Regions from separate parts of the Homo sapiens genome. Here regions 1, 3, 4, 5 and 6 are each reported to be linked to region 2. Evidence: microRNA targets listed by miRTarBase, many of them from high-throughput screens and not tested one by one. Region 2 holds a microRNA gene; each other region holds the end of a gene's coding sequence.
The links. Region 2 holds the annotated microRNA hsa-miR-6876-5p (CAGGAAGGAGACAGGCAGUUCA, at 2,936-2,957, shown strand). A microRNA usually pairs through its seed, bases 2 to 8, with sites in the 3' UTR of a target mRNA and lowers its output. Matches are read on the target gene's strand: a 7mer-m8 pairs with bases 2 to 8, a 7mer-A1 pairs with bases 2 to 7 and ends in A, and an 8mer does both.

Region 1: miRTarBase lists BLOC1S2 as a target of hsa-miR-6876-5p. Seed matches in the 3' UTR shown: 7mer-A1 at 554-560 and 8mer at 1,103-1,110.
Region 3: the mRNA of TBC1D2B is a reported target of hsa-miR-6876-5p. Seed matches in the 3' UTR shown: 7mer-m8 at 1,254-1,260 and 7mer-m8 at 1,365-1,371.
Region 4: miRTarBase lists RAB5B as a target of hsa-miR-6876-5p. Seed matches in the 3' UTR shown: 7mer-m8 at 948-954, 7mer-m8 at 835-841, 7mer-m8 at 778-784, 7mer-A1 at 521-527 and 7mer-m8 at 502-508.
Region 5: the mRNA of SEMA4G is a reported target of hsa-miR-6876-5p. Seed matches in the 3' UTR shown: 7mer-m8 at 1,268-1,274.
Region 6: miRTarBase lists DRG1 as a target of hsa-miR-6876-5p. The part of its 3' UTR that is shown has no 7-base or 8-base seed match.

What each region holds. Positions count from the first base shown.
Region 1 is chr10:100,270,745-100,275,801 of GRCh38, reverse strand. BLOC1S2 (biogenesis of lysosomal organelles complex 1 subunit 2) reads left to right here. Exons shown (of 5, transcript NM_173809.5): 5 at 309-2,509. The coding sequence ends at 340. Among named protein-coding and RNA genes, the nearest start is that of CWF19L1, 5.6 kb to the right of the region's middle.
Region 2 is chr8:25,342,472-25,347,758 of GRCh38, forward strand. MIR6876 (microRNA 6876) reads left to right here and starts at 2,931; the gene lies at 2,931-3,003. It overlaps DOCK5 (dedicator of cytokinesis 5), which reads left to right. Exons shown (of 52, transcript NM_024940.8): 25 at 1-36; 26 at 3,004-3,140. RefSeq lists enhancers at 2,880-2,939, 2,922-3,216.
Region 3 is chr15:77,994,104-77,999,390 of GRCh38, reverse strand. TBC1D2B (TBC1 domain family member 2B) reads left to right here. Exons shown (of 13, transcript NM_144572.2): 13 at 1,036-4,406. The coding sequence ends at 1,231. LOC91450 (a long non-coding RNA gene) reads left to right here and starts at 5,166. Exons shown (of 1, transcript NR_026998.1): 1 at 5,166-5,287.
Region 4 is chr12:55,989,760-55,994,977 of GRCh38, reverse strand. RAB5B (RAB5B, member RAS oncogene family) reads right to left here. Exons shown (of 6, transcript NM_002868.4): 3 at 4,880-5,031; 4 at 4,174-4,296; 5 at 3,525-3,618; 6 at 1-2,881. The coding sequence ends at 2,766. Among named protein-coding and RNA genes, the nearest start is that of SUOX, 4.9 kb to the left of the region's middle.
Region 5 is chr10:100,983,564-100,986,711 of GRCh38, forward strand. SEMA4G (semaphorin 4G) reads left to right here. Exons shown (of 15, transcript NM_017893.4): 15 at 1-2,053. The coding sequence ends at 568. MRPL43 (mitochondrial ribosomal protein L43) reads right to left here. Exons shown (of 3, transcript NM_032112.3): 3 at 2,706-3,148. Among named protein-coding and RNA genes, the nearest start is that of MRPL43, 2.4 kb to the right of the region's middle.
Region 6 is chr22:31,433,681-31,438,648 of GRCh38, reverse strand. DRG1 (developmentally regulated GTP binding protein 1) reads right to left here. Exons shown (of 9, transcript NM_004147.4): 9 at 4,197-4,777. The coding sequence ends at 4,678. It also overlaps a transcript of EIF4ENIF1 not described here. Among named protein-coding and RNA genes, the nearest start is that of DRG1, 37 kb to the right of the region's middle.

The DNA.
Region 1 (5,057 bases), not on the chromosome of region 2:
GTAAGGCTCCCGATAGGTCAAGTGACAGATGTGCCCCATCCTGGTGGAGCTGTCTAAGTAGGTGCTGTTGACAGGGTGAGGACTTCGTGAACCTGTGTTAGGCTCTCAGTTCTGAGTGTCTGTGCTTGAATTCTTATTCCAAGTTTTACAGATCAGTGATCCGTATATTTGGACAGATGATGAGATTGAAGCTAATAGATTTTTAGTAATATTATACATATTTTTTAAACTTGACTGGAAATGCTAACTAAAAACTGTCTTTGTAAGAGCCAGTTTTAAAAGATGTAACTCTCCCTCATCCCTCACAGAAGCCAAGTACAAGAAGCTGGAGAAGCGATGAGAAACTTATTTCTATGGGACAGAGTCTTTTTTTTTTAATGTGGAAGAATGTCTTATAAAACCTGAATCCTGAGGCTGATGAATTGTGAAAATTCCTCAAAAGGAAATTATGCTGGTCATCACAGGAACATCTCAACGTTCGAGTAAACTGGAGGACTGTGGCTATTCCTGAACCTTCTTTGAGACAGAATCCCTCAGAATCTCACACTTATAACTTCCTACCTTTTACTTGAATGCTTTGCCATATTCAGGACAGAGACTCTCACAAAGTTCAGAAAACAGCTGGACTTACCAGTAAAATCAAATGAGAGGACCTATTTTCTCTGGTAGTGGTTGATTACTACATTATTTTCTTAAGTGGCTGGTTTTTTAGTTACTATGTAAATGGTCGTTTTTCTGTTAATGATGCTAATGTGTTGTAAACAAGATTCTAAATTTAAAAAGGAAAACAAAACAAACTTGTTCTTTGCAGCTTATCACCTTGTGAATGTCGGTAACTTACTTTTCCATAATATTGCAAATAACATAAAATCTTAAAATAATTCCAAGCTGAGTCTTCTAGATTGAGCAGAAATGGTGAAAGGAGTATTGATAACTTGGCGTATGTGATGGGCCCCTCTTGTTTATTTTCTATGTGAGTCACATTGACATGCGATCAGTTTGGGAAATGTGATGAAAACAAAGACTAGATGGGTATGTGTGTTTATGTGTTGGGTAGGGAGGTGACGATTGCCACTCATAAAATAAAGGATTTTATAAAATACCTTCCTACTGTGTATGTAGGATTTGGGGGGATCTTAGGGACCTAATCGACTTCTTTGCACACTAAAAACATCAGACAATGGGACATACTGACTGACCAGTCTAGGTTGAAAGATAGGCAGCCTTACCCAGAACACAACATTAGCAGCTGGGAAGGTGTCTGAGGTCCCCAATTACATATCCCAAAGAGTTTCTTACTTCTGTTTCTGTCATTTCCCCTCTGTTCCAGACAGTCATCATTTATCCTCTGTTCTTCCTGGACTGTTGCTGTGGTCTCTTCTCATCTTAACTGTCCCTTCCAACCACCCTCCACACTGCTGCCAGAGCAATCTTAAAAATGTAAACTGGCCCTATTACTCCTGCTTAGAACCCTGTAGTGACTTATCATGGCCTCTGAAAAATCTAGACTTTCATTATGCATACAAGTCCCTTGTGTTTTTTTGTTTGTTTATAGACAGGGTCTCTATTGTCACCCAGGCTGGAGTGTGGTGGTGTGATAATAGCTCACCTTGACCTCCTAGGCTCAACTGATCTTCCCACCTCAGCCTCCTGAATAGCTGGGACTACCAGCACGCTCCACCATGCCTTGCTAATTATTTTTTATACAGATGGAGTCTCACTATGTTGTCCAGGCTGGTCTTGAACTGGCCTCAAGTGATTCTCTTACCACAGCCTGCCAGAGTGCTGAGATTGTAGGCATGAACCACCGTGCCTAACATAAGGCCCCTATTTAAACATTTTTCTTAAATAAAAAACAAAAGAATTAAACTGTAACTCTACTATCTTAACATAGAATCAGTCTTACCCCTTCTTCCAACCCTTTTCCTTTTCCGTGCATGTATTGATCTATTTTTTTTTTTTTTTTGAGATGAAGTCTTGCTCTGTCGCCTGGGCTGGAGTGCAGTGGTGCGATCTTAGCTCACTGCAACCTCTGTTTCCTGGGTTCAAGCGATTCTCCTGCCTCAGCCTCCCGAGTAGTTGAGATTTACAGGTGCCCACCACCATGCCAGGCTAATTTTTGTATTTTTAGTAGAGACGGGGTTTCACCATGTTGGCCAGGCTGGTCTCGAACTCCTGACCCCAAATGATCCACCCACCTCGGCCTCCCAAAGTGCTGGGATTACAGGTGTGAGCCACCGCACCCAGCCATGTTGATCTATTTTTAAAAAGTTTTTATTTCCTGTTACACTGTGTTCAGCTATCTTCAGCCACCTTAAATTCCCATGGATGAGTTTTCATAAACTTTTTGAAAATAGATTTAGATTTACGGGAAAGTTGCAAAGATAATACAGAATTTAATGGATGAGTTTTTTTATTGATGTGTAATAGATGTATGTATTTTCAGAGTACAAGTGATAATTTAATACATGTATATAATGTGTAAATATTAAATCAAGAGTTATTGGGATGTCCTTCACCTTAATATTTATCTTGTCTTTATGCTAGGAACATTATTTGAATTATTCTCTTTTACCTATTTTGAAATGTACAATAGATTAACATTAGCTATAGTTACTCTACTGATCTATCATAGGTCTTATTTCTTCTGTATTTGTGTCCACTAATCAAACTCTTCATCCTCACGTCCCCACCACCTTTCCTGGCCTCTGGTAACCACCAATCTACCTCCATCTCCATGAGATCCACTTTTTTAGCTCCCACATGTGAGTGAGAACATGTAATATTTGTCTTTTCTGTGCTTGGCTTAGTTCAGTTAACACAATCACCTCCAGTTTCATCCATGTTGCTGAGAATGACAGAATTTCATTCCTTTTATGGCTGAACAATATTCCATTGTGTATATATACCACATTTTCTTTACCCATTCATCCATTGATGGACACTTAGGTTGATTCCATATTTTAGCTATTGTGAATAGTGCTGCAATAAACATGAGAGTGCATATATCTCTTTGATATATTGATTTCCTTTCTTTTGGATACATACCCAGTAGTGGAATTTGCTGGATCATATTGTAGTTCTATTTTTAGTTTTTGGAGGAAACTATACAATTTTCCATAGTGGCTGTACTAATTTACATTCCCACCAACTGTGTACAAGAGTTCCTCTTTCTCTGCATCCTTGCCAGCATCTGTTAATTCCTGTCGTCTTGATAGGAAATTTTAAGTGGGATGAGGTGATATCTTGTTGTGGCTTTGATTTGCATTTCTCTGATGATTGGTGATGTTGAGCATTTTTTCTTATAGCTGTTGGCCATTTGTATGTCTTGAGAAATGTCTATTTTGATCTTTTGCTCCCCCCGCTTTGTTTTTTTAAGAGATGAGTTCTCATTATGTTGCCCATGCTGGAATCAAACTGGGCTCAAACAGTCCTCCTGGGACTGGGCATAGTGGCTGAGGCCTGTAATCCCAGCACTTTGGGAGGCTGAGTAGGTGGACCATCTGAGGTCAGGAGTTCAAGGCCAGCCTGGCCAACATAGTGAAACCCTATCTCTACTAAAACTACAAAAAATTAGCCAGGCATGGTGGTGAGCACCTGTAATCCCAGCTACTTGGGAGGCTGAGGCAGGAGAATCACCTGGACCCCAGAGGTGGAAGTTGCAGTGAGCTGAGACTGTGCCACTGCACTCCAACCTGGGTGACAGAGTGAGACTCCATCTCCCCACCCCCTCCCCCTCCCCCAAAAAAACCCTCCTGCTTCAGCCTCCTGAGTAGCTGGGACTACAGGCAAGCACCACCACATATGGCTTTGCCCATTTTTAGACAGGATTTTTTGTGGGTTTTTTTCGCTATTGAGTTGTTTGAGCTCCTTGTTATATTTATTCTGGTTATTAATCTCTTGTCAGATGGATAGTTTGCAAATATTTTCTTCCATTCTGTGGGTTGCCTCTTCACTTTGTTGATTGTTTCCTTTGCTGTGCAGAGCTTTTTAGTTTGATATAATCCTATTAGTCTATTTTTGCTTTTGTTGCCTGTGCTTTTGAAGTCTTATACAAAAAATTTTTGCCCAGATCAATATCTTGGAACATTTCTCCAGTATTTTCTTCTGGTAGCTTCATAGTTTCATGTGTTAGGTTTAAGTCTTTATCCATTTTGATGCGATTTTTGTATATGGTGAGAGATAGAGTTGAGTTTCATTCTTCAGTATAGGGCTATCCAGTTCTCCAAGAATCATTTATTGAAGAGACTGTCCTTTCCTCATTGAATGTTCTTGGCACCTTTGTACTTTTGGTATTGACATAAAATGAGTTGGCTGTAAATGCATGGATTTATATATGTTCCATTGGTCTATGTGTCTATTTTTATGTCAGTACCATACTGATTGGGTTACCATAGCTTTGTAGTAGATTTTGAGGTTGGGCAGTATGATGCCTTCAGCTTTGTGCTTTTTGCTCAGGATTGCTTTGGCTCTTTGGGGTCTTTTGTGGTTCCATATAGATTTTAGGATTGTTTTTTCTATTTCTATTTCTGTAGAGCAGCAGTCCCTAATCTTTTTGGCACCAGGGACCGCTTTTATGGAAGACAATTTTTCCGTGGACGCGGGGGGATTTTTTTTTTTAATGGTATGAACCATATTTATTGAAAACATTATTTCTGGCCTTTCTCAAATTGAAGACTGCAAAAAATAAAAGCAGTGCTTTATTGAGTTGTCATTAACCTTGAGAGCAGTGGCGCTGCCTCTCCACGCTCTGGGGACGGTGGAAACCGTGGCTGGTGCGTGCCACATCTATCACACCTCGGTCTACAAAACAGTCCTGACGTCAAATAAAACTATTGTGGCCGGGCGCGGTGGCTCACGTCTGTAATCCCAGCACTTTGGGATGCCGAGGCGGGCGGATCACGAGGTCAAGGAAATCGAGACCATCCTGGCTAACACGGTGAAAACTCGTCTCTACTAAAAATACAAAAACAAAATTAGCCAGGCATGGTGGCGGGTGCCTGTAGTCCCAGCTACTCTGGAGGCTGAGGCAGGAGAATGGCGTGAACCCGGGAGGC
Region 2 (5,287 bases):
CCAAGATAGTAGAGAGCACTCTTTTTCGACAGTCAGGTAAGTCTCCTTCAAAACTTGCTGCATGAGGTTGCAGTGAGCTGAGATTGCACCATTGCACTCCAGCCTGGGTGACAGAACAAGACTCCATCTCAAAAAGCTAAAACAAGCTGCTGCATGCTGAGATGACAGCCCCATTTCTGCAGCTAACACTTGGGTTTTGTTGTTTGTTTGTTTTTTCTTGTTTTTTTTTTTTTTTTTTTTTTTTTGAGACGGAGTCTCATTCTGTCACCCAGGCTGGAGTGCAGTGGCGCAATCTCGGCTCACTGCAACCTCGGCCTCCCAGGTTCAAGCAATTCTCCTGCCTCAGCCTCCCAAGTAGCTGGGACTACAAGGACCTGCCACCAAGCCCAGCTAATTTTTTTTTATTTTTATTTTTAGTAAAGACGGGGTTTCACCACGTTAGCCAGGATGGTCTTGATCTCCTGACCTCGTGATCCACCCGCCTCGGCCTCCCAAAGTGTTGGGATTACAGGCGTGAGCCACCGCGTCCGGCTTGTTTGTTTTTTAAGACGGAATCTCACTCCCTCACCTAGGCTGGAGTTCTGTGGCACTGTCTCTGCTCCCTCTAACCTCTGCTTCCCAGGTTCAAGTGATTCTCCTGCCTCAGCCCCCTGAGTAGCTGGGATTACAGGTGTACATCACCACACCCAGCTAATTTTTTTTTTTTTTTGTATTTTTGGGAGAGGGGGGGTTTCACAATGTTGGCCAGGCTGGCCTCAAACTCCTGACCTCAAGTGATCTGCCCAACTTGGCCTCCCAAAGTACTGGGATTACAGGCATAATTACCGTGCCCAGTCAGCACTTGACTTTTCTTTTTTAAAAATGTCATTAATATTCTTGCCAGTTGTTTGTTGGCAACATTAATATTGTTGCCAGTTGTATGTAAGGACCTCCTGGGAGAGCGGTTTTAAGGAGAATCTAAAGTCAGCTCGGTATTTCCAACAGTTCCTAAAAGAGCAAAATCATGTGTTCCTTAATCTTTAATTAGAACAATCTGCAAGTGGTTCATTAATTAGAGAATTTTGTCTTTAAAACAGGAACCTCAGGAAGTAACAAGCAAGTAGGAAAAGATGACCCTTTTAAAAGAAATTATTCTTCTTTAGTCTATACTTATTGCATGACCTTAAAAACCAGGGGACAGGGAAACAGCAATGTGTTGGATCCCACAGGAGAGCTGGTTACATGCATCCCTTCTCAACCCCACGTTCAGTGATATCACATTAGTAGCTGGAAATTGACCATGGTGGAAGTCTTTACACCAGGGTAACTGGCAAACATGATAAAGCAAGCGTTTTTTTGTTTTGTTTTGTTTTGAGATGGAGTCTCACTCTTTCGCCCAGGCTGGAATGCAGCAGCATGAACTTGGCTCACTGCAACCTCCACCTCCCAGGTTCAAGCAATTCTCCTGCCTCAGCCTCCCAAGTAGCTGGGATTACAGGTGTGCACCACCATGCCCAGCTAATTTTTTTTGTAATCTTAGTAAAGCCAGGGTTTCACCATGTTGGCCAGCTTGTCTCAAGCTCCTGACCTCAGGTGATCCACCCACCTTGGCCTCCCAGAGTGCTGGGATTATAGGCATGAGCCACTGCACCTGGCCAAGCTGTTTTCTTTAGGGGGTAGGCTGGCAGAAGCCAGATTACTAGTATTCTGCTGGGAGAGGAGTGGGGCATGGAGGGGAAAAACTCTTACACTGATAAAATACTTTTCATTTTGTAAGTAGAGTCTAGCAAATAGCCACCAAGTGTTTCTGTCCCAAAGCTGATATAAACAGGAGGTCCAGCACCTGGGCCTTCCCAATAAACTCAAGACTTGCTAGAGTGAGGCAGCCACGGAGACTTCTTCTGGGGCTAACTACCTGGTCAGGGGCTCCCAGAGTGTAACCTCATTTTATGTATGTATATTGCCTGGAGATCTGAAGACCAGCAGGACTCCTCAACGTTAAACAAGTTGAGTGGATTGTTGGTGGGAGAGCCTTCCTGGCTTTGCCCCTGGCTAGTTATGTAACTGGACAAATGAGTGGCCTTCTCTAAGTCTCAGCCTCCAGTTCTGTGGAAGGAAGGACTTGAGCTAGATCGTATCAGTAGCCTCCTTGGGCTCTGATATTTTCTGACCCTATGAATTTGCACTTTGAAATTGCAAATGTTCCTAAGACACAATTGGAGGTAGAGGTAATGCCTGCAAAAGGTTAGTGAATGCTCATAAGTAGAAAACATTTATTACTAAAGCAAATTATTACTAAACATTTTAATATGCTTTGATCACTTTTTAAGGATACAGAAAAGGTAATTGAGATAGTAAAGATAAGGTGTTTGAGCAGAAGAGCAAGCATGCACTGGATAGTTCTACTTAGAGTGTGATCACGGTTAACAGTCATTTCTGTAGCATTCAGAGTACCTGAACTCATTATAAAATGTGTTACAATAGCAAAGATCTCAGAAGACATAATAGGTCATACCTTACTTTCTGAAATCCACACGCCTGCACAGACATGAGCAGAATGTCATTGACATGTACTAGGGAAGCTCAGTATTTATAGGAACTTTATTTATAGGAACTTCTTTCAGTAAATTTTCTCCATTAGGTGAAAAAATTTTTGAAAAAAAAAATGTATAACTTGCTTGGTTTTATTTGTTTCATATGACCCTCAATTTCGTGCATTAGGTTGGCGTTTTGAAAAGCTAGAGAAATTGTTAAATAATTTAAACATTTTGCTAAGTTCCCACCTTCACCTGTGAGAAGGGTCATTTTTTTTTTTTTTAATTCATTCATCTGCGCATTGAACAAGGGTAAAGTTCCGTGCCTAAAACCAGGTGTTCCTGGGTGGCCTGGAGGGGCTGCATCCCTGCAGGGCTGATTGCAGAGCTTAGAGCTACTGGTACTGGTCGAGGAAGAGTTGCAGGAAGGAGACAGGCAGTTCAGGAGGTGGCACTGCTGTGTGTGAGCTGTCTGTGTTTTCCTTCTCAGAGTGCAGAGAAGTGCTGCTGCCACTGCTGACAGACCAGCTCAGCGGCCAGTTAGATGACAACTCCAACAAGCCTGACCACGAGGCAAGCTCGCAGCTTCTGAGCAACATCCTGGAGGTGCTGGACAGGAAGGATGTGGTGAGTTGAGTCATCACTGATGCTGCACAGAGTTCACACTGTCCCCTTTGCACCAGACAGGAGTGACTCCGTGGCCTTCCTATTCTCAGGTAGTTTCCAGCTCCGGTATTAGGGCAGGCTGTGCCCATTTTAGAGATAATTAGGGAGGCCAGAGCCTCCAGTGCAAAGTCAGATTACTGCTGGGGCCTTCTGCAGGCTGATTTTCCTGGCTTGCCCAGTGTGCGCACTATTGAGATCCCTGTGACTTTTTTTTTTTGAGAGGGAGTCTCGCTCTGTCGCCCAGGCTGGAGTGCAGTGGCGCGATCTCGGCTCACTGCAAGCTCCGCCTCCCGGGTTCACGCCATTCTCCTGTCCCAGCCTCCCGAGTAGCTGGGACTACAGGCGCCCGCCACCACGCCCGGCTAATTTTTTTGTATTTTTAGTAGAGACGGGGTTTCACTGTGTTAGCCAGGATAGTCTCGATCTCCTGACCTCGTGATCCACCCATCTCGGCCTCCCAAAGTGGTGGGATTACAGGCATGAGCCATCGCGCCCAGCCCCTGTGACTATTCTTAAGAATCAAAGACCTGACTGGGCATGGTGGCTCAGGCCTGTAATCCCAGCACTTTGGGAGGCCAAGTCAGGAGGATCACTTGAGTCCAGGAGTTCAAGACTGACCAGCCTGGGCAACTTAGTAAGACTTTGTCTCTCTAAAAAATAATAATAATAATAAAAAATAAAGAATCAAAGGCCTTTCTGTTTTTATGCAGACACCTCTTCCTTCTTATCCTCTGATGCCTAACAACCTGATATTTCTGAGCTGCTGAGAAGTTCTCATTTCCATATCCTCTTGGACACTGATACTTTCTCTGGAACCTAATGGAAATTATGTTTTCTCATCTTGCGTTTTCTCTGTGACCTGGCCCCCATCCCTCTTGAAAACACAGGGCTAAGGCCGGGCGTGGTGGCTCACGCCTGTAACCCCAGCACTTTGGGAGGCCGAGGTGGATGGATCACGAGGTCAGGAGATCGAGACCATCCTGGCTAACACAGTGAAACCCTGTCTCTACTAAAAATACCAAAATTAGCTGGGCGTGGTGGCACGCGCCTATAGTCCCAGCTACTCGGGAGGCCGAGGCAGGAGAATCCCTTGAACCTGGGAGGCGGAGGTTGCAGTGAGCCAAGATTGTGCCACTGCACTCCAGCCTGGGTAATAGATTGAGACTCCAACTCCAAAAAAAAAAAAAAGAAAACATAGGGCTGAACCTGTCTGGATTCACCATGTCCTAGAAATAGTGCAGCCCACAGGCCTAGCAGAGCCCCCACACAGGAAGCTGGAGAACTTTGCAGAATGTGTTCACTCGAACAGTTGAGGGCTGAGAAAAAAAAAGCATCTTACCACAAATTATAGTTACCACGTCTATGGTGGTTTCATGGCACAGGTGTTCCCACAGAACAGGAAAACCACTCTTTGTCATCACCTAAAGTCTTTATCTTTCCAGTATCTTGGGATTCTGTCCTACCAAAGGATATGAATACTACACCTTTTCCCATAGCTAAACCGTTAGTTCACTTGTCAGGGTCCACCACCGTTTGACTACAGCCCACCTTTTCTCCTGCTCATGGTTTGCACTGGGATGTCTACATTTCTGTGAATCCACATTGCAGCCTCAGAAGTATGTGAGGGTACCATTGCCATCTCTAGCTGCTCCGCCAATCTCTGTCCCTCCACTTCCCTAAGCCCCTGTAGCCCACTTACTCTTTGCACTGCTTACTTGATATTTATTCATTATAGATCATTCCCCCTTTTTTTCATTAAGTATGTTTATAGAAACCACATTATAAAATGGAATACATTTTCTCAAAGCATGTTGCGATTGGAGATTTGGTTCCTAACCAAGGACTTTGCACCAAATACGTAAATGTGACCAATCACGTCATAAACTCAATACTTTTTTAAAAGTAACTCTTATAATTCAATAATTCCTTAAAATAATAAAGTAAAGCTCCACGCCCTATAAATTTGGCAGCAATGTACCTGGCACATTGGTTTAGCCAGGGATCAGTGTTCTAGAAATCATATGTTTATGATCCAAAGTTAATGTAAAACACAAGAATCAGAGCATTGGATTCTAGTCCCAATATTACCACTCTGCAGCTATTTGTCC
Region 3 (5,287 bases), not on the chromosome of region 2:
GTAGTAGTGGGTGTTTTGAAACATAAAAGGTTGCACCCTCGTGTGTGCCTTGTGTTAAAAGGAGCCCACGCAGCCGACGGCAGCAGGAGCAAATGGCCTGCTCTGATGGGGACAGGCAGGAAGTCCTTCGGGGCATTTCTGTTTCATCACAGCTTTTCCTGGGGCTGGTGAGTCTGTTGGGCCTTTGGTTGACAGGGAAGCGCATGAGCCCATGTTGGTGGATACAAAGCATTTGGGGCCTGGCAGAATCCAGAGAGGGGAAGAAGGTGGCCCTAGGAACTGGCCTATTTTGTGATCCCCAGAGACCAGTGTGGCTGACCCATTAGTGCTACAAATCCATAGCCAGGCCTCAGGACAGCTTTTGGTCTTGTTTTTATTAAGCCACTGACCAGTGGTTAGGAGCAAGTGGATCATAACCTTAACATTTTTATTGAAAATTGGAGCCTTGACCTGGGGATGTGAAACCCACAAGCTGCACATTTCTCTGTAGACTGCATCTGGACACTTGTCACATTGCCAACTGGGTCTGACAGTCATCGCCAGGACTGCCTGGGCCTGTGTTCATTCCCAGTCAATGAGTCCTGGGACACAGACGTCCCGGACTCGTGCCCGGTGCCAGGCCTCATGCCCGCCCAAGGATGAAGACATACCTGCCATCACCATGCAAGTGCCGGGAGCTCTTCTCAGGGCTTATGTGTGGGAACACGAGTAATCCCACACCCTAGGAGGTGGCACTACTCTTACCCCAGTGTGCAGATGAAGATCAGAGGCCAGAAAAGGGGGGTGACTTCAGTCACACAGCAAGCATGTGGCAGAGCTGGAGTCCAGGTCGTCATTCTGAGCCTGCCCCTGGCTGGGCCATTGTGCTTTGTCACCTCTCTACAGAAGGTGGGCCTCATCCCCTACATCAGGCCCCAAGCCTGGCCAGCGCTCTTCCCACCCTGCCCCAGGCCACCTGCTATGCCTGTGAGGGCTGTGTGTGAGCACTCTCTGGAGCGCCGCTGATTCTCTTGTCTCTCCCCTGCGTCCTGCCAGGAAGCTGATCAGTATCTCCTTTGGGGACCTGAACCCTTTCCCCCTACGCCAGATCCGGAACCGACGCGCCTACCACTTGGAGAAAGTCCGGCTGGAGCTGACCGAGCTGGAGGCCATCCGTGAGGACTTCCTGCGTGAGCGGGACACCAGCCCTGACAAGGGTGAGCTGGTCAGTGACGAGGAGGAGGATACCTGAGTGGGCTCGGGATGCTGCTCTTCCTTCCTTCACAACCAAAGTGTGCCCAAAGGGTGAAAGTGCACTTAAAAGCCAGAATGTAACGTGTGTGTCCTCTGGGGATCTGCTGGGCAGATGTCCCAAGCCAGGCTGCCCTTCCTCATTTCCCACTGTGCGGGGGGCAGGGGTGGGAGGTCTAATCTGTTTACAACCATTTCCGTGCCATGCTTTTGGTTACACGTATCTCAGTCACGCTTTCTGCCTGGTTGGTGGATCCTCAGGCTTACCAGTGGCTATTTGCAAGAGCCTGTTTCCAGCCTCCGTCAGCCTGTCGGTGCTCTGACCCTCTGAAACCTTGCTTTGCTGGGCATCTCCCCATATTCTCTCTCCTGTACATAGTGGGCAGTGGTGTGTGGTTTTGAATGGCAGTGCTATAAAGGATGCCAGCTGTGCTTTAGGCACCTGTAGGCCAGAGGGTTGCTGCCTCAGGCATAAGGTTGGTATGAAAAGGGGCTGCCTTAGAAAAGCAGGCACATCCCTTGTTCAGAAATGGCCACTGTAGGAAAGCCTGTGAACCTCCCACCAGTGGCTTTAAGCTGCCAGCCATGCCCCATTTCTAGAATAGCCTTTGCTCTTCCACACGCAACCCTTCCATCAGTGTCTTCCAGCCTGCATGGGGAGGGCCTGGCTGCCCAGACACCCACCCTCACTTCTCATGGCCAGCCTGTGTTTGCAGATCACTGGGCTGCTCTGTCCCCAGCTTGCCCCGTGCCAGGCATGGCTCTGTGAGATTCTGTGGAATGCCCTTCTTGACTTGTGGAAATCATTCACCAAGTACGATGGGATGGGATTCCAAGTAAACAGTGGACCGTCATATTGCAAAGCAGGCCCACGCCTGGGCTGGCCTTGGTTGAGGGGATGGAGGAATGTTTTCGGGGGTGCTTTGCAGGGCAGTGGTGCAGCCGCAGCGTGAACGCTCTTGGACAGCTGAAAACCATGGCCTCCTTGGGGATGGCCAGTGCTCCTGGTGTCTCCACCTGCCTGGGTTGTGCAGGAGGCCGGCTGCCAGTGCCTGGGGCTGGGAAACTTTTTTGCTTGGGGCAGGCTTGGGTGAGCTCTCCCAGATGTGTGCCCACCCCACCACTGCCTGGAACATCCTTGTTCTCTGCCAGGATGCAGGGGCACTGTTGCCTCTGACACAGCAGTTTCTGGGAACTCAGAGGACTGCCTTTCTGAAGGCTGGGGAGAGGCTTTGAGCAAGGAGCTTGTTTTTGCTTAATCGCTCTAGACCATCCCTGATGCGTAGATGTGAGAGGATGTTTTCTGGCACAGTGTTATGAAAATACAAGATAAATGATCTCAGTGGAATGTTTCATATTACCCGAAAAAAACTGGAAATCATCCTTTGTTGTGAACACACTGAGACTAAGAATTGAAGCAATGCAGTTTTAAGAAGTATTTTTCCTATTTTTTGCTGTCAACTTTTTGGCAATGCCACGGCAAAGTTGGTGTTTCAGCACATGCTAGAGTGAGCTCCGGCTTCGTGTCTTTAACCAACTCCACTAATGTTTCACTGGGTAGACGGAGCTGGCCTCTATATTTAGCCAGAAGCCTTTGCCTCTTTTCAGGCATCAAAAATGGGTTTTGTCATTGTCTTTGTCTTTGAGAGCAGCAGTTTGAGGTCTGACTCCTTCAGTTGTCCTGTGAGCTGGGCGTTGCAGTCTGCTCGAATCAAGTGTTGGAACCCCCCCCACCCCTCAGCCCATCGTGAAACGACAGCTGTCAGCCTGGGGGGCGGCTGCTGAGGAGGTGCAGCAGGAATGGGGCTGGGCCCTGAGGTTTTACTTTCCGAGCCAATGGCCCCTGGAACATGCCAGCACACACTGCCATGTCCTGGGGCTAAGAGCTGCCTTTAGGGACAGGCTCGTGTTGTCCAGTTTGCCCTGAGAGATGCACCTGACCAGGGGCCCGTCGTGGCTGCAACCCACGGTGGTATGTTAGTGTTTCCAGGCAGTTGTCAGCAGCTGCCGGGCAGTGTGTGTGTGCGACAGCAGGAGAGTTCCTGGAGGAAAGGGACTGGGGACACTTTCTCAGAGGTTCTCCTGCCTGGAATCAAGTGATGCGTGTCCAGAAGGCAAGAGAGGGCGGCTCCGCCTGGTTAAAGTTTGGGAACGGGACGGAGCCAACTCCTCCTTCCAGGACTGTGGGCCCCACTCTTTTGCGCTAACACTTCCCCTCCCTCGGGTCACTGAGGAAAGAGCTGCTCTGTCCCCTCCAGTGCCCTGAAGGTCCCTGGCCTCCACTGGCTGCCATGGCAGGGGGCCCTTCTGACAGGGGCTGCCCCAAGCTGCTGTTCCTCCTCTGAACCTTCACCCCAACACCCAGCCCGTGGCCCCTGCAAGGGGGACCCTGCCAGCTGGGAAACCCAAAGGCCTGTCCAAACGTGCGCACCAGGACCGAGGGGAGCTCCCTCCCAACACCTGCTAGGAATTGCCAACTTTTAAATGGATGGGGTTTTTTATGGGTTGAACCTCTGTTAATACTTTTGTACACTCTCACTACAGTTTATATTTTTATAGGCTATTTTCTCAAGGTGTTTCTAGATTCCACATATCTATTTTATATAACAAGTTATTATGTTATGTGTGTGACTCCCTTGTGTGTATCTGTGCCAGCCTCAGCCTCCGAGTTGCTTTTCCCTCTGGCCCTGACTCTCACTGACTCACCGATGTGATGTGCAGGCCCACTTCTTACCCCAGATAGCCTCGGGCGCTGCCTGTAGTCATGCTGACAGCTGTACAGTAGCCGCCAAGACTGCTGACAGCTGGAGACGGTTCTGGTTTCAACTACGGTATATTGATATCGGAAGTATTCTAGACAGATCCTCGGTTGGGTTTTCTAGCTACATGTTTGTATTGCACAGATCCCCACCTGCCATCCTATAGTGTTGTCTTCCTGTGTGTTCCGGGGCTTCTGGGCAGCTGGGCCTGCCCGGGGAAGTCCTTGCAGGTGGGAGGCCATACAGAGACCCACTGTGTGCCACTGAACGTCCCACTGCTGCTGGGCAACTGGAGGACTGCAGGGGGCGCCAGGTGACTCTCTCCTTTTATATCACAGCAGCTCCTGTGCTGACCTTCAAGTTACGTTTTGGAACTGTAATACTAAAGGAAGAAATAAACTACTAATTTGTATAATATTCTGCATTGAAATTCAGTTATAGTCACTGGTGATGGGGCTCACCCCAAGGGCTTGGAGGGTGGGGCAGGGCTTATTGGTGTTGCGGGGGGCGAGGAGGGGCTCTCCAACCTTCCAGCCTGGCGTTTCTGGGTGTCTCTGCCCTTGGCTCACCCTGGGGCGGGTGCATCAGGATGCCTTTGCCAGCAGGGGCAGCCTTGGGAGGCCCCAAGAACCATGGCCAAGCTGCAGGTGTGGGCTGGGGGCACCGAGGTGGGAAAGCCGGAAGCTGGAGACTCCCTGTGTCCGGATAACCCCCCGCCCAGCCACAAAGAACAGGCATGCCTCCTTCCGCCAGCTGTGCCATGCCCTGCCTGAGTCACAGGCTTGTTTGTCTCCTGCCTGGGCTGACAGCTCAGGCCCAGCTGCCACTGGGCACACCCGCAGTCATCAGTGGAAAACACCCAAGAATGATAAAGACCAAAGGGGTTCCCATAGGGGTGTTTCGGGGTGGCTCCAGCAAGGATTCCCAGACAGGGCAGGCCAAGGCCTGGCAGGCTTTTCTCTTCTGCGGACATGGATTCAGCGAGGCTGGGGGTTCCTGGAGTCACGCAGCAGAGCGGCGGCGGCAGAGCTGGGGCAGAGCTGGGACAGGGACTGGCTCCGTGTGTGGGTCAGGAGCAAGTCGACAGGCCCTGCTCCCCACCCCTTGGAAGGGAGTGCCACCAGGGGCCGTTCTGACTAAGGCCTGGGAAGCCATGACTCAGAGCTTGGGTCCCTAGAGTCTCTTTGGGCCAGCCGGGCTGCTGCAGACAGACAGGAAGCACGCCTGACGCTCCTCTACCCTCGGGCAGCACAGCGGGGCTGGGACTCACTCTAGCTTGCCCAGCAACTTGCTTTCCT
Region 4 (5,218 bases), not on the chromosome of region 2:
TAAAAAGATATAATAGGGTTTGATTTGATGAACAATCTAGTGGCCTTAGAAGAGGGGTGATTAAATAGCAATAGAAGGGCTATTTTCTAAACTAGATGTTTAAGAAAAGATTAAAGGGAATAAAGATGTATCAAGATGCAGGGAAAGGTGTGTTTCTGATTCAGTAGAACATTACTGGGTATCCTTTCTTCCAAATTCCTAGTACCTGACAAATAGCAAAAATAATAATAATAATAACAATAAAATAAAAAAAAGCAACACTCCAATGCCCTTTTCTTTTTTTCCTTTTTTTACTTACATTAAATACATCGGTAAATCAGCAGTCGCATTCTGTTACCACGATTGTTATGTTGGGAGAGGAAGAAAGGCAAATGCTTTCTCAGAAGCAAAACAAAAACAAAAAACCACAACACCCCCCCTTAAAAAAACTGACCAGAAGAAAAAAATGAGCTGGGAAATAAACAAAAGAAAACTAAGATCCCCAAGCCCAACAGAGCTCAAAGGAAGGCAGAAGAGGTGGTAGGAAGTAGAGGGAAGGCAGCCGATAGGCCCAGAAGCTAAGGCCAAATCCTGTTCCTATGGGGGTGGGGGGAGGGAGAAGCCTGGGGAAGTGGTTTCCCAGGCCCAAGATAATGAAACATCTTCACTCCTGCTCCAAGGGGGAAAGCTGCACAGAGAAAGAACTTCATTTCTAGAAGACTTTGGAAAGCCATCCTAGTTCTTCCACTTGTAAAAAGGATGCACTGGGTGCTATGGGGGGCCAGTGGCTTCTGGGAAAGGAAGGGGGAAATGTGTGTGTTTCAGGGCCATGGGAACTAAGGCTGCCCCTGGAAAAGGAAGGGAATTGAGGCCTAAGTGGAAGAACCTAAGCTGGGTCCTTCAGAATCTCAGCTTCATAGATTTCTCAGCTGTTCTGGGATAGAAGGCAGTCTGCAAGCCAAAAGGGCAGGAAGGTTCCAATCCTAGGTCACTGTGACCTTTCCTTTCTTTCTTTCCCAAAACTCCGGGCTGGAACAAGGAACTTAAAGTTCTCTTTTGCCTTGATGGCTTCTCAGAGACATCTTAAAACACCTGATGAAGGATATGAAGAGAGACTAGAGATTTAGAAAGGACCAAGGTCCTCTGATAATATGAGCCAGTTGTAAGGTACCTTCAGTGCCGGTCATTCCCTCTCCACAGGAACAGGTGGTATGATACGAGGGCACCACAGGAGGCCTCTGTGGTACTAGCCCCTATTGGTACATGGATTAAACCACTGGTTGCATGATGGGGAGGGATGGGGGGATTAAGGATGGAGGGACTAAATTCAAGATATTAACAAAGGAACAAAGAAACAGGGCCTGATGGGAGGCAGAGGATAGAACAGACTGTACAGTGGGAATAAAGATCATACCTATTTACAAGGAAGTAGAAAAGACATGGTAATGGATATCAAATTGAGTGTGAAACCTGGGAAAGGACAGAAAACTCCTCCCTTTTGCCTGACCTCCTTTTTACTCCCCTACCTTGGCCTGTGCTATCCTGAGACACTCCTCAATTGCTCAATTAATTCTCCAGGAAAGGCAAACCTATAGTCAATAGTTAGCTTGGCAAGAATATAGGTTAATAATTAGAGTTGGAGGAAGCTAACAGTGGAGATAGGACTTGAGTAGCTGCCACTGGTAGTTTTATCTATAACCTCTCCTCGAACCTCGCATTAACCTCAGATTTCATTGAATTAAAAAGAAGGTGGGAGGGCAAGTAAATCAATCAAAACTTCCATAAAACAAGTACCCCAACTGAACTACCATCAATTAAAGTGCAAACTGCAGGGGTATATGGTGGCTGGGGCTGAGGCCATCTAAAGGCCAGAGGGGAAAAAATGCATATGTATAAATCAGAGGATGGGTACCAGAAACTGTCCCTCCTCCAATCAGATCACAGCAGAGCCAAAGATGCAGGCAACCAGTGAAAATTCTTTGGAAGACTCTGGGGTCCAACCCCCACGATTAGGGGAAACGCTACCTAAGAGGCTGCGTGAGGGGAAACTGGGCCTTTGAAGAGTTACAGAGCCACAGTTGACACTGCACCTCCACCTCCGCCCAGTTAGCTTACAAGGCACCTCCTGCCTGGTGCCTGAGATCTTGCCTCCCCATTCTCACCTCTACCTAGGAACACCCTCCACAAGGCCAAATCATGGATACCGCAATGTTTTCAAATATGAGAAACTCCAACCAAATAAAAACAAAAAGGAAATGTTTCCTTACTCCCTCCTGCTCTGAGCTTTATTCTCCCCCAGGGCCCTTAATGTAAATGAACTGGAAACCTCCTTCCTCAGTTCCTGGGTTCACCACTTTCTGCATCCTGGGGAGAGGAGAAAAGAGGCTCAAGAACAGGGACTGACCAAAAGCAGAAGGGGAAGGGACAGGAGTCAGAAGTGTTTTCTGAAAAAATGGGGAGGAACACTAGGGAGGAGGAGAAAAGATACGTAAGTCGCTGTCTTGTACCTATAATACAAAGTGAAGAAAGTTTGTTTTGGAAGGTAAGTCCTGGGGGGAGTTGACCCCCAAGCCCCAGAGTAGGGGGTAGGAGGCCAGTGGCAACAGCTGCCTGGTGTTTGTTGCTGAAGCGTTAAAAAGTGCCATGACGGAGCTGTCAGGAGGCAGCCCTTGGGAGCCAGGGCTCAGTGTGCTGTTACCGTAGGGGTTGTGTGCTGAGGGGTAGGGATGGAGGTTATTTCTTAGCTCTTGTGCTAGCTCCATACTTGTTTGCTGCTAGCCACCCCCTCAGTTGCTACAACACTGGCTCTTGTTCTGCTGGGACTGTTCATGGAGATCCACACCCCGGCTTCGGCCTGCTGCACCTCCCAGATTCTGGGGTTCACTCTTTGGCAACTTCTTAGCTAGAGATAAAAAGAGAAGAGAACAAAGTATGGTAGACTTTACTTCCCTACCCCTCTGCCTCCACCCGCCAAAAACGGCTACTGAATTGGGGAAAAGGGAGAATTTGAGAGATTAAAAGAATGTTCTGAAGATGGGAGGGTTCACTATTTGCAAACTTTTTTTTTTTTTTTGAGATGGAGTCTCGCTCTGTTGCCAGGATGGAGTGCAGTGGCACAATCTCGGCTCACTGCAACCTCCACCTCCCGGGTTCAAGTGATTATCCTGGCTCAGCCTCCCAAGTAGCTGGGACTACAGGTGTGCGCCACCACGCCCAGCTAATTTTTGTATTTTTAGTAGAGACGGGGTTTCACCACATTGGCCAGGATGGTCTTGATCTCTTGACCTCGTGATCCGCCCGCCTCGGCCTCCCAAAATGCTGGGATTACAGGTGTTAGCCACCACACCTGGCCGGCAAACTTACACATTGAAGACAAGGGAGCTAAAGCTGCAGCCAAGGATGGAGGTCATAACAGAAAGTTAAGGTATTTCCATACCTAAAGTTTTTGCAAAAGGAGATACTCGCACCTATCCTTGATTTGGGTTAGCTATAATTTTGCCTATAAACGAGGGAAAAAGGAGGACCTCAGGATGTTCTGACCTTACCTATTGCCAGGAAGAGATCATTCACGTTCATAGCTGTCTTGGCTGAAGTCTCCATGAACAATAAGCTGTTGTCATCTGCATATGCCTGGGCCTCCTGCAAGGAGTGGGATGTATTAGTGCTCAGAATGTAGGGTGGGAACGAGTATTGCCTTTCCACTCCCATGCAGCACAACAGCTAGGCAAAATCCTAGGTTCCCTCCCCTTAATTAATACCCCTTTGAGCCAGCTAGCCTAGATGCATAATTTAATGACAACTCCCTCAAGATGACCCCATGTCCACTCAGTCCAACACACAAATGTCAGAAAGCTTAATTATAGGGGAGAGGGTAAGTTAGTTGGGGGCTTTTGGGTTGTGACACTTGAATAGTCCCTTACCACAAATTTAATTGCTCCCTCCTTCCTGTTTTCACACTGGTACCCCCACAGCTGGTACCTCCCTAACCCTCTGCTCTGGAGTTTTCTCCTGACTCCTTTGAAAATCTCCTGGCTGTCATTAGGGTCACAGTGTTGCTGTATTTAACTTGGTGTAGAACTGGGGAATGAGACAATGAATGTCCTCTGTTGACGTTTTCAGAGAGGGCTGGTTTGGAAAAAAAGAGGTCCCAGGAACAGAGGAAGTGTTAGAGAGGAACTCCACGGGCCACCTTACTTCATACTCCACCATACGTTTGTTGGCCAGGTCAGCTTTGTTCCCTGCCAGGGCAATAACGATGCTAGGACTGGCCTGTCGCTGTAGTTCCTTCACCCATGTCTTTGCTCGGGCAAAGGTTTCCTAGGAAAACATGAAGAGAATGAGTAGGCTGGAATGACTGCCAATCCATATCCATCACCTTTTAAAATGAGTCTCAAAATTCACCTCTTCTAGGTGGTCTTCCCTCAGTGAAACCACAGGTCTCTGATAATTCATTATCTGTCTTCTTAGCACTTGGAAGCATAATTTGTACTCTTATTTGCTATTTCAAGAACCCGTTTTCTGCCCCCTTACCCCCTGCCCCAAACTAACTCCTCTAAATATAAGCAAGGACAGTCTTTTTTCTTTTTTTTTTGAGGCGGAGTTTTGCTCTGTCGCCGAGGCTAGAGTGCAGTGGCTCGATCTCGGCTCACTGCAACCTCCGCCTCCTGGGTTCAAGCGATTCTCCTGCCTCAGCCTCCCGAGTAGCTGGGACTACAGGCGCGCACCACCACGCCCAACTAATTTTTGTAATTTTAGTAGAGACGGGGTTTCACCATGTTGGCCAGGATGGTCTCAATCTCTTGACCTCATGATCCTCCCGCCTTGGCATCCTAAAGTGTTGGGATTATAGGCGTAAGCCACCATGTCCAGCCAACAAGGACAGTCTTCTTAGCTCACTTACCTGATTAGTAATGTCGTAAACCACGATTGCAGCTTGGGCACCCCTGTAGTACATGGGGGCTAAGCTGTGATATCGCTCCTGCCCAGCTGTGTCCCAGATCTCAAACTTCACTGTTGTGTCATCTAGACAAACGGACTGGGTGAGGAAGGCCGCTATGGATGAGAGAATGGAGGGGAAGATGCTGTAAGTGGGAGGATGAATGGGAACATCCCTCCCCCCCTTCAAAATGTAACTGCCCTACACTAAGACCAGTCACCACCCAGGATAGTCAGCTACAGGAAAAGGTTTTGAGTTCTCCTTACATGTAAGTCTTGAAACCAGGATTAAGACTGCCCTTGG
Region 5 (3,148 bases), not on the chromosome of region 2:
CCGGCCAGCCACTCCTGCCCCAGCTCCAAAAGCCCCTGCCACACCTGGGGCACAGCTGGCACCTGATGTGAGACTGCTCTATGTGCTAGCCATTGCCGCGCTTGGTGGCCTCTGCCTCATCCTGGCCTCCTCCCTCCTCTATGTGGCCTGTCTGCGGGAAGGCAGACGAGGGCGCCGACGGAAATACTCACTGGGTCGGGCCAGCCGGGCAGGAGGATCTGCGGTGCAACTGCAGACAGTCTCAGGCCAGTGTCCTGGAGAGGAAGATGAGGGTGATGATGAGGGGGCTGGGGGCCTGGAGGGCAGCTGTCTCCAGATCATCCCTGGGGAGGGAGCCCCAGCCCCACCACCCCCACCGCCCCCACCGCCACCGGCTGAGCTGACCAATGGCTTGGTGGCACTGCCCAGCCGGCTGCGGAGGATGAATGGCAATAGCTATGTGCTTCTGAGGCAGAGCAACAATGGAGTACCAGCAGGGCCCTGCTCCTTCGCCGAGGAACTCAGCCGCATCCTGGAAAAAAGGAAGCACACGCAGCTCGTGGAGCAGCTAGATGAGAGCTCTGTCTGAGCCCAGCCTCCCAGAACAAATGCTCTTCCAAGCCAGCCTATCTGTCCCAGGCTGGGCCACTGCCTCCCTAACACAGCCACCCTCCCTTCATTACCCCCACTCCATACCCTTCTCCCAACTTTTTGATGTCCCTGTAGGGCTGGCCAGTCAGGCCCAGCCAAAGCCCCCTCCTCAGTCTCCACAGACCCACATGTGAGCAGCCCAGGCCCATCGGTGCTCCTCAGAGGTAGGTGCTCCCTCAGGATCAGGTGCCCTGCAGACCCAGAGCCAGTTCCTATCCCCTAACCTAAACACTTATAGGTGAGGACTCCATCCTCCTGTTCCATTCATCTGCCCAAACCCTTTCTCTTTCTCCCAGGCAGGGCTCTGCAGGTCCATATGGGCTCAATGTCACCACCCTCTGCATGGCCCTGTGTGCTGGATGGTCCTGAAACCAGACAAGACCTCTGCCAGCCACCTAAGCCCTGCGTACATTCACATGCACACATGGAAGAATGTTTATCGGCTGGGCTGCAGTGCCCCCACCCTCACCTTCTCCTGGTGCATTCTTGTTTCATCCCTGCTTCTGGACTTGGGGTACCCTCCCAATTGCCACATCCTATCTGGTCCTCTTCCCCAGCCCCATGTGGTGACCTCTTTGTCAAGAGCTTGGGAACGGGCCAGCCTGGGGAGGTAAGACTGCATCACTCCCCTCCTCTCCCTTCCTGTGTGGCCCTTGTGAATCAGCCTCCCCACTCTCCTTGGTCATTCTCAAGAGTATGAGAGACAGAGCTCCAGGCATGTCCCATCCCCATGCACATGTGGTAACACACACCTGTATCACACATGTGCTTACATTTCCACTCACATGCACCTCTGAGCCTCCCTTGCTGTCTTGGACCTGTCTGTTGGGTTTAGTCCGTGGACATTTCAGAGGGAGATCCCCCTCCCATTTAACTGTCCTCACAGGCCCTTGCCTAGGATGGATGACCAACACTGCACTCAATGAGCCAGCCTCTCTTTTGGGGGAATCAAGCATTTGCTTCCTCTAGACTACAGCAGGGAAAGGGAGGAGAAATCTGATGTCTCAACTGGCACATGAAGCCCATTCTTGGAACTATGCAAAGGGCAGAGGCTGGGAGTTTGGACGCTTAGCTCCTACCCCTGTCCTACCTCACCGGGGCACTTTCAGGGGCCAGGGGCCTCTGAAGTCTCTAGGCCTATATGGGACAATCAATTCTGACTGAGCTCCCCCATTCCCCTCGGGTGAGGATGACTGTTATTTTTGTAGCTGAGAACGTGGAATCCCACGGGTTTTTACTGCCCTTCACCCAACCTCTCCCACCTCCACCCCACAATGAATGTATTTATTGTGAGAATGGCTACACTTCTTTAGGAATGCCCCCACTTACAACCAGGTGGGTGGAACAGGCATGTGACAGAGTGGGGAGCCTGGGCTCAGCTCCTCCCCCTGCCGTTGGTTAATAAACACCCTTTTTCCCCACAGCTATGACTAGTCTGCTTCATCTAGATGCGCCCACCCCTGATCACCAGGGGACAGGCTCCTGAGCCTATACAGAAGGTGATATCTGCCTCCAGGATTGGCTCTGCTCCCCAATACAACTATTTGCAGAGGAAATTGGGATCCTCCGCTTCCATCCTGACTCCTTGGCAGGCACACAGGCCTCTTTAGTAAGGTTCACACTATTCATTGATCATGGTGTTAGGGCATGACAAGAAAATGACAACAGTTCAAGAATTCTTACAGGGGTTTCTAGATTTTCATTTCCTGCCTCTCATTTCCCCACCATCCCCCCTTTTTAAACTAAGATTAGAAAATACTCATTAATATCAGCCTTCCTGCCCTTCCCCAAGGTTCTCAGCACCCCCCACCAGCTGGCTCAAGGGACATGGATTTTATTTCTGCACAAAGAGGGACGTGGGGGGAAGGAGATGTATAGCTAAGACCAGAGAAAGCTTGTCAGCCAGGACTTGGTCTGAGAATCACTCCCCTCTCCCTTTCAGGGGTCAGGCCTAGATTAATCACTTGGCCTTTGATACTAACCACCTGACAGTTGTTATATGTTCTGCGTCTAGTTTTAAAATAATGAAAACTGAGGCTTGTGCTTAACATATGCACACATTTTGAAGACAGACCTGAAATGTGACCTTGGATAAGTTTATTAACCTGTTTTATAAATCTGTATTCACACAGATATAAAGTGCCTAGCCCATCACAGCAGAGCTCTCCGTAGCTCAGTGGTTGTTCCAATAAGACATCAGGGATTCTTCAGAAGCCAGCCTTCAGACCTCTCACTGTGTTTTGAGATCATTATTATCAATTTGGATTTAAAAAACAAGGGCCCTGTAAAACCCTTGAAGTCTTCCTCATCTCAGGTTTTAGGGATGCCACTTGCATAAAAATGAGTGGTTCACAAGGTCACTGCCCCCAGAAGCAGGCACTGGAAAGAAACAGGCAGCTCTTCATTATCCCAAGCAGAACCTCTGTCAACTTGCCCATTGATGGGTTCCATTTGCCTGGGCTTGGAATCCCAAAGGGGAAGAACCACCTTTACCGGAGTAACAGTCCAAAGCCTGGGG
Region 6 (4,968 bases), not on the chromosome of region 2:
TTTATACTGGACTGACCCTATAGATAGCATAGCCTTGTGGCTAATACCAGGATATCTATAGTGTAATTTCCAAGATTAAACTGACCTAGTGAAAACAGTTTATTGAGGAATCATCTATTACATATGGTAGTTTCTCTCAAACAAATCATGTTTACTGGGGCATCCTGTTTCTCTAAGCTCAGAGTTCTGAGCTTAGACCCACTGAAGTCTAAGAATTTCCCTTAAGACTCATGCATTAATTGACTCCTTGTGTTCTGTATCACATTCCTTAGCTCACAATTGTTTTATTATTCACCTTAACTATTAGTATATACATAGCACTTACGGATAAAGATTCTACAGAATACAGTACAGTTCTGAGTCCCCTTTCCTAACTGGAGGTTTTTCAGTCCTGCTATGAGGTGATACTTATTTCCCATGCTACTCAAGTTAATTTACCAGAGTTCTAGATATTTGTCCATTCAGGACCATTTTAGGACTCCATGCTAAAGGGTCAGATAATGAGGTAAAGGTCAAGGTGGTTGGATTTTTGACTACAAGGGTAGTAGAGTCTTGGGCAGCCTAAGTCTTGACCGTTTGTTAGGGAATAATGACTATAAGCCTGGAACTGCCCACCCTGCCGTGTACTTGCAGGAATACAAGAAAGCAGGTCACCTTTCAAGAAAACCTGGCTTTATGGATTATGCATGAAGTCAGTCTCTTCCTGGTACTTTTCTTTCAGCCTCATTAGTAATCCCCTTCCCCCATGCTATTCACTCCATGTGATTCCTCAGCTTCAGAAATAGACCCTCTGTTTAGAATTTTTGGCAAATGCTTTCTGGTTTCCACAGGTGGAAGCTGGAACGCAGTCCCAAGTGTCAATGGCAGAACACAGACACCTGAATCCAGTTCCACCTTTCCTGTGTATCCTCTTCCACTTATCTTACTTCCCCTTCATGTTGAACCAACGTTAATAGGTGCAAGGTAAGGAGGACTGGGTTGAAGCTGCTAGTAAAGGCTTCCTTTTCAGACTAGAAGCTAGTAGGACAGAAACAGGTACCATGCAAAGAGCAAAGCCATTAGCTGGTGATTGGCAAATGGCGCCAGAAGGAAATAAGGGAGTATTGCTAAGAGTATCAGCAGAAGCTAGACATACAGGTTTTAGCAAAAGTATTTTGGTAAACACAAGGACTAGAGGAAGCGGGAGGGTGGGGGGGGGATGAAGGCAAAAGACACATTAATGCAGTCTTCAAGGAGCTAAGACCTTGATATAGGATGAGGGCAGAGAGGAAGGGATGTCTTTGGAGAAACTTTTGATGTCTTGCAGGCACGAGATGAGTTCACAAGCAATCAGTGCTGGAAGGATGTGCAAAATAAAAGTTAAGAGAAGCTGAGGATATAGAAGGCATCCTGAAAGTAAAACAGCTGAGGACCACAAAGCATATCATGGAAAATCTGTTAAGCAGGGGAGGTCAGGTAGGAGAGGAAAGAATAGTCCCTCCCAAAGGAAGCAGTTAAATAAGTCTGTGGGAGGTCAGTGGTAAAAGGAAGTGGGAATGAAGTGAACAGAGAGTGCAGCTAGGCCTTCCCCTAGGAGATAGCTACTGAGTGTCTTTTAAGCCAGACTCTATTAACAGGGAAGGGAAGTGGGAGGTCCATTGGCCTTTGTGAACTATGAGCATAAACACAAACCAAGAATGACGATAACTTACAGGGTTAAATTCTGGTTCTTCAATAATTCTATTCCCTTTACCAACAATTGATTCAAAAATAGACATGTGACCCAATTTTAGGCCACGAGACAACAAACTGGGTGGCTTCTGGAAAACAGCTTCCCAAAAAGGTAAGACCAAGTTCCCTTCCATTTCAGCCGCTTAAGTTAGCACTTTCTGCTAAATGCAGCTAAACGTGTTCTAACTAGTTAAATGGCACAGAACAATGGATCTGTTTACTTGTAATAAAGTCAGGAAAGAAACATGGAATATGTAAAAGCACAGGAAATTCAAATCATGCTATGACAGCCAAACCAGTAAAGTCTTAGAGTTAATGAGGAGAAAGCCTTTAGCTGTACCTCCACAGTGGCCATACCCTAGGCAGCATTCCCAATACCAAACATACCCCTCTCCCAGAACTGCTAAGTCTAAGCCCAGAGGAGAAAGGGAAAGGTAGGGTAATTCTCTCCTCAAGGAGACCAGGGGTCCCTGGACCAAGCCATGGGGAGGGTGCTAAATGATGGACACAAAGCCTATTCACAGAACATCCTGAGGCCTTAGGATGAACTGGATTTCAGCAACCTTCTCTCCCCAACATTCTGGCAGTGCTAAATGCTTGCTCAATGAAAGTGAATTTTGGCAAGAAGAGTCCCCAGAAACCCAATATGTTCTGGCTGGAGAACAAACCTTCCTGGAAATCCCGTAGCTCAGAAAGCCAATGTTTCCCTGTTCCCCTGCAGGGTTGGGGCAGGCTCTAGACCACGGCCTCTATCATGAATGCACCAGTGGTATCAAGGCCGATATTCTGAAAAGTAACTAGCATACCAGGCTTCAGGAGCTTACCTTCCAGGTCTGGGGACAGTGACAAGCCCAAGCTCCAGGAAGACTATCAAAGGGAAACAACTGCTATTAGGGCAGCAGGAGAAACAAGCACTGGAGAGAGGCTGAGTATGTGAATAATCCCACACTGTGATCACTCATGACCTGCTAAAAGCTCTGGCTTGCCTCATTTGAAGAAATAATCAAATTCTGTCTTGCTGCAAACCTATTCTTCCTGATTTTCTCAGGGACTACTCCATCCATACTGAAATAATGTTTGACTTCTTCCCAAGAGCAAGTTAGTTAACAAGTTTAAGATTTCTCCCCCATACTTACATGTCCATACCCTCCCTTCTGCCCATATTCTTTAATTATTTAATTTTTATTTCTTGGAGACAGGGTCTCACTCTGTCACCCAGGCTGGAGTGCAGTGGCCCATCTTAGCTCACTGCAGCCTGGACCTCCCAGGCTCAAGCAGTCCTCACCTCAGCCTCCCGAACAGCTGGGACTGCAGGCATGCACCACCATGCCCACCTAATTTTTTAAATTTTTTTGTAGAGATTGGGCCTCGCTATGTTGTCCAGGCTGGTCTCGAACTCCTGAGCTCAGGCGATCTTCCTGCCTTGACCTCCCAAAGTGCTGGGATTACAGGTGTGAGCTACTGGGCCCAGCCCCCTCCGTCCATATTGTTACCCACCACACCAAGATTTTCATCAACCAGTTTCACATAATCAGAGCAATCCCCTTAAATTCCTATATTCCTAGTCCCCCAAATATCTGATTATGTCCTTAGCATCCTCTCAAGTAGTCCTGACACCAAGCCTCCTCCTAAACCGCCCACCTCCATATATACACATATGTGAACACACAAACCTGCTTTGATCACACCAGTTGCCTCACTTGCAATGCACCTTCGCCCAAGTTATTGGCTGAAGCCAGGACTTTCATGGGGATTCAAGCAGAAAGTCTGGGTTATGGGAAAGAAGGCATTTAGTTGGCCGGGCACGGTGGCTCACACCTGTAATCCCAGCACTCTGGGAGGCTGAGGCAGGCGGATCACCTGAGGTCAGGAATTCAAGACCAGCCTGACCAACATGGAGAAACCCCATCTCTACTAAAAATACAAAATTAGCGGGGCATGGTGGTACCTGCCTGTAATCCCAGCTAATCAGGAGGCTGACACAGGAGAATCGCTTGAACCCGGGAGGCGGAGGTTGCGGTGAGCCGAGATCATGCCATTGCACTCCAGCCTGGGCAGCAAGAGCGAAACTCCATCTCAAAAAAAAAAAAAGAAAAAGAAAAAGAAAAAAGCATTTTAGTGGCCCAGGTGGCAACATAGTTCAGCTCAACATTCAACCCAACACTGATGATGTACAGCTGTGCTCTGCATAGGGCAGACAGCCCAGTAAAAGGCTCGGTGCAACAAAAGCCAAGAGTCATTGAGTACTTACAAATTGCTTAGCACAGTATTTGACATATAAGTACCATCTCCCTCCATTACTAACAATCACCACCGCAGAAAGTAAGTGCTATTACTATCCCCATGTTACATGAGGAAACTGAGGCTCATAAAGGTTGGGTAATTTGTTCAGGGCTCCACAGCTAACTAGAGGTGGACCTGCAATTTCAAACCCTGATCTGCCTGGTCGGAGTACTTAATTACATGATCTCCCAAAATAGGTTAGCCTTGCGGGGAGTGATCAATTAACTTACATAAAGTCCTTCCTCTCTCCAGTATCATGTGGGAAAGACTACTTGAAAGGACTGAAAGCCATATCTAGTTTGGAAGGGGTTCCCATAAGTAAACATCAAGTAAGATGCAGCATGTCATATTTTTATCCATTTCACACTCAAGATGAAGTTCCCAAGGATCCCTTCTGTAGCTGCTTCACCGTATATACCCTTCCTCATTCAGCCCATCCCAAAACAAATTCTGACAATGACACATGAGCTGCATGTAGCTGACCAGCCTACCAGATCTTTTATGCAGTTCGACATACAAGGTGACACCAAGGTAAGACAAATGAAGTTCCAGTTTGGGTGCCTCCATCTCCCTCCCCTGGATCCTGATCCAGTGACTGCCAAAACCAGAAAGAACTGGGGTAGGGTGCTTGATCATGGGGAACGCTGTTGTGGTTCGTCCGGCAGATGGGAAAAGGGAAAGGTTTCACTTCTTCACAATTTGAATGACATCCTCATCCTCCAACGTATGGTCTTTACCCACTTTCTGAGGATTGTGTTTCACAGAGAGACCCCAGACCAGAGCACTGCATGGAAGGGAAAAAGAACAGTCAGTGTAAATAATAACCTAGCTTCTGCCCTATTTGCCTGGATGCCACCCTTCTGCTCAGATTTAGTATCATACCCTTAAGAACCATAGACCTACAAAAGCTTTATCTTCCCTAGCAGCATGAGACACTGAAGCCTTAACATAAAAGCCGGTAAAGACTTCTGGAAG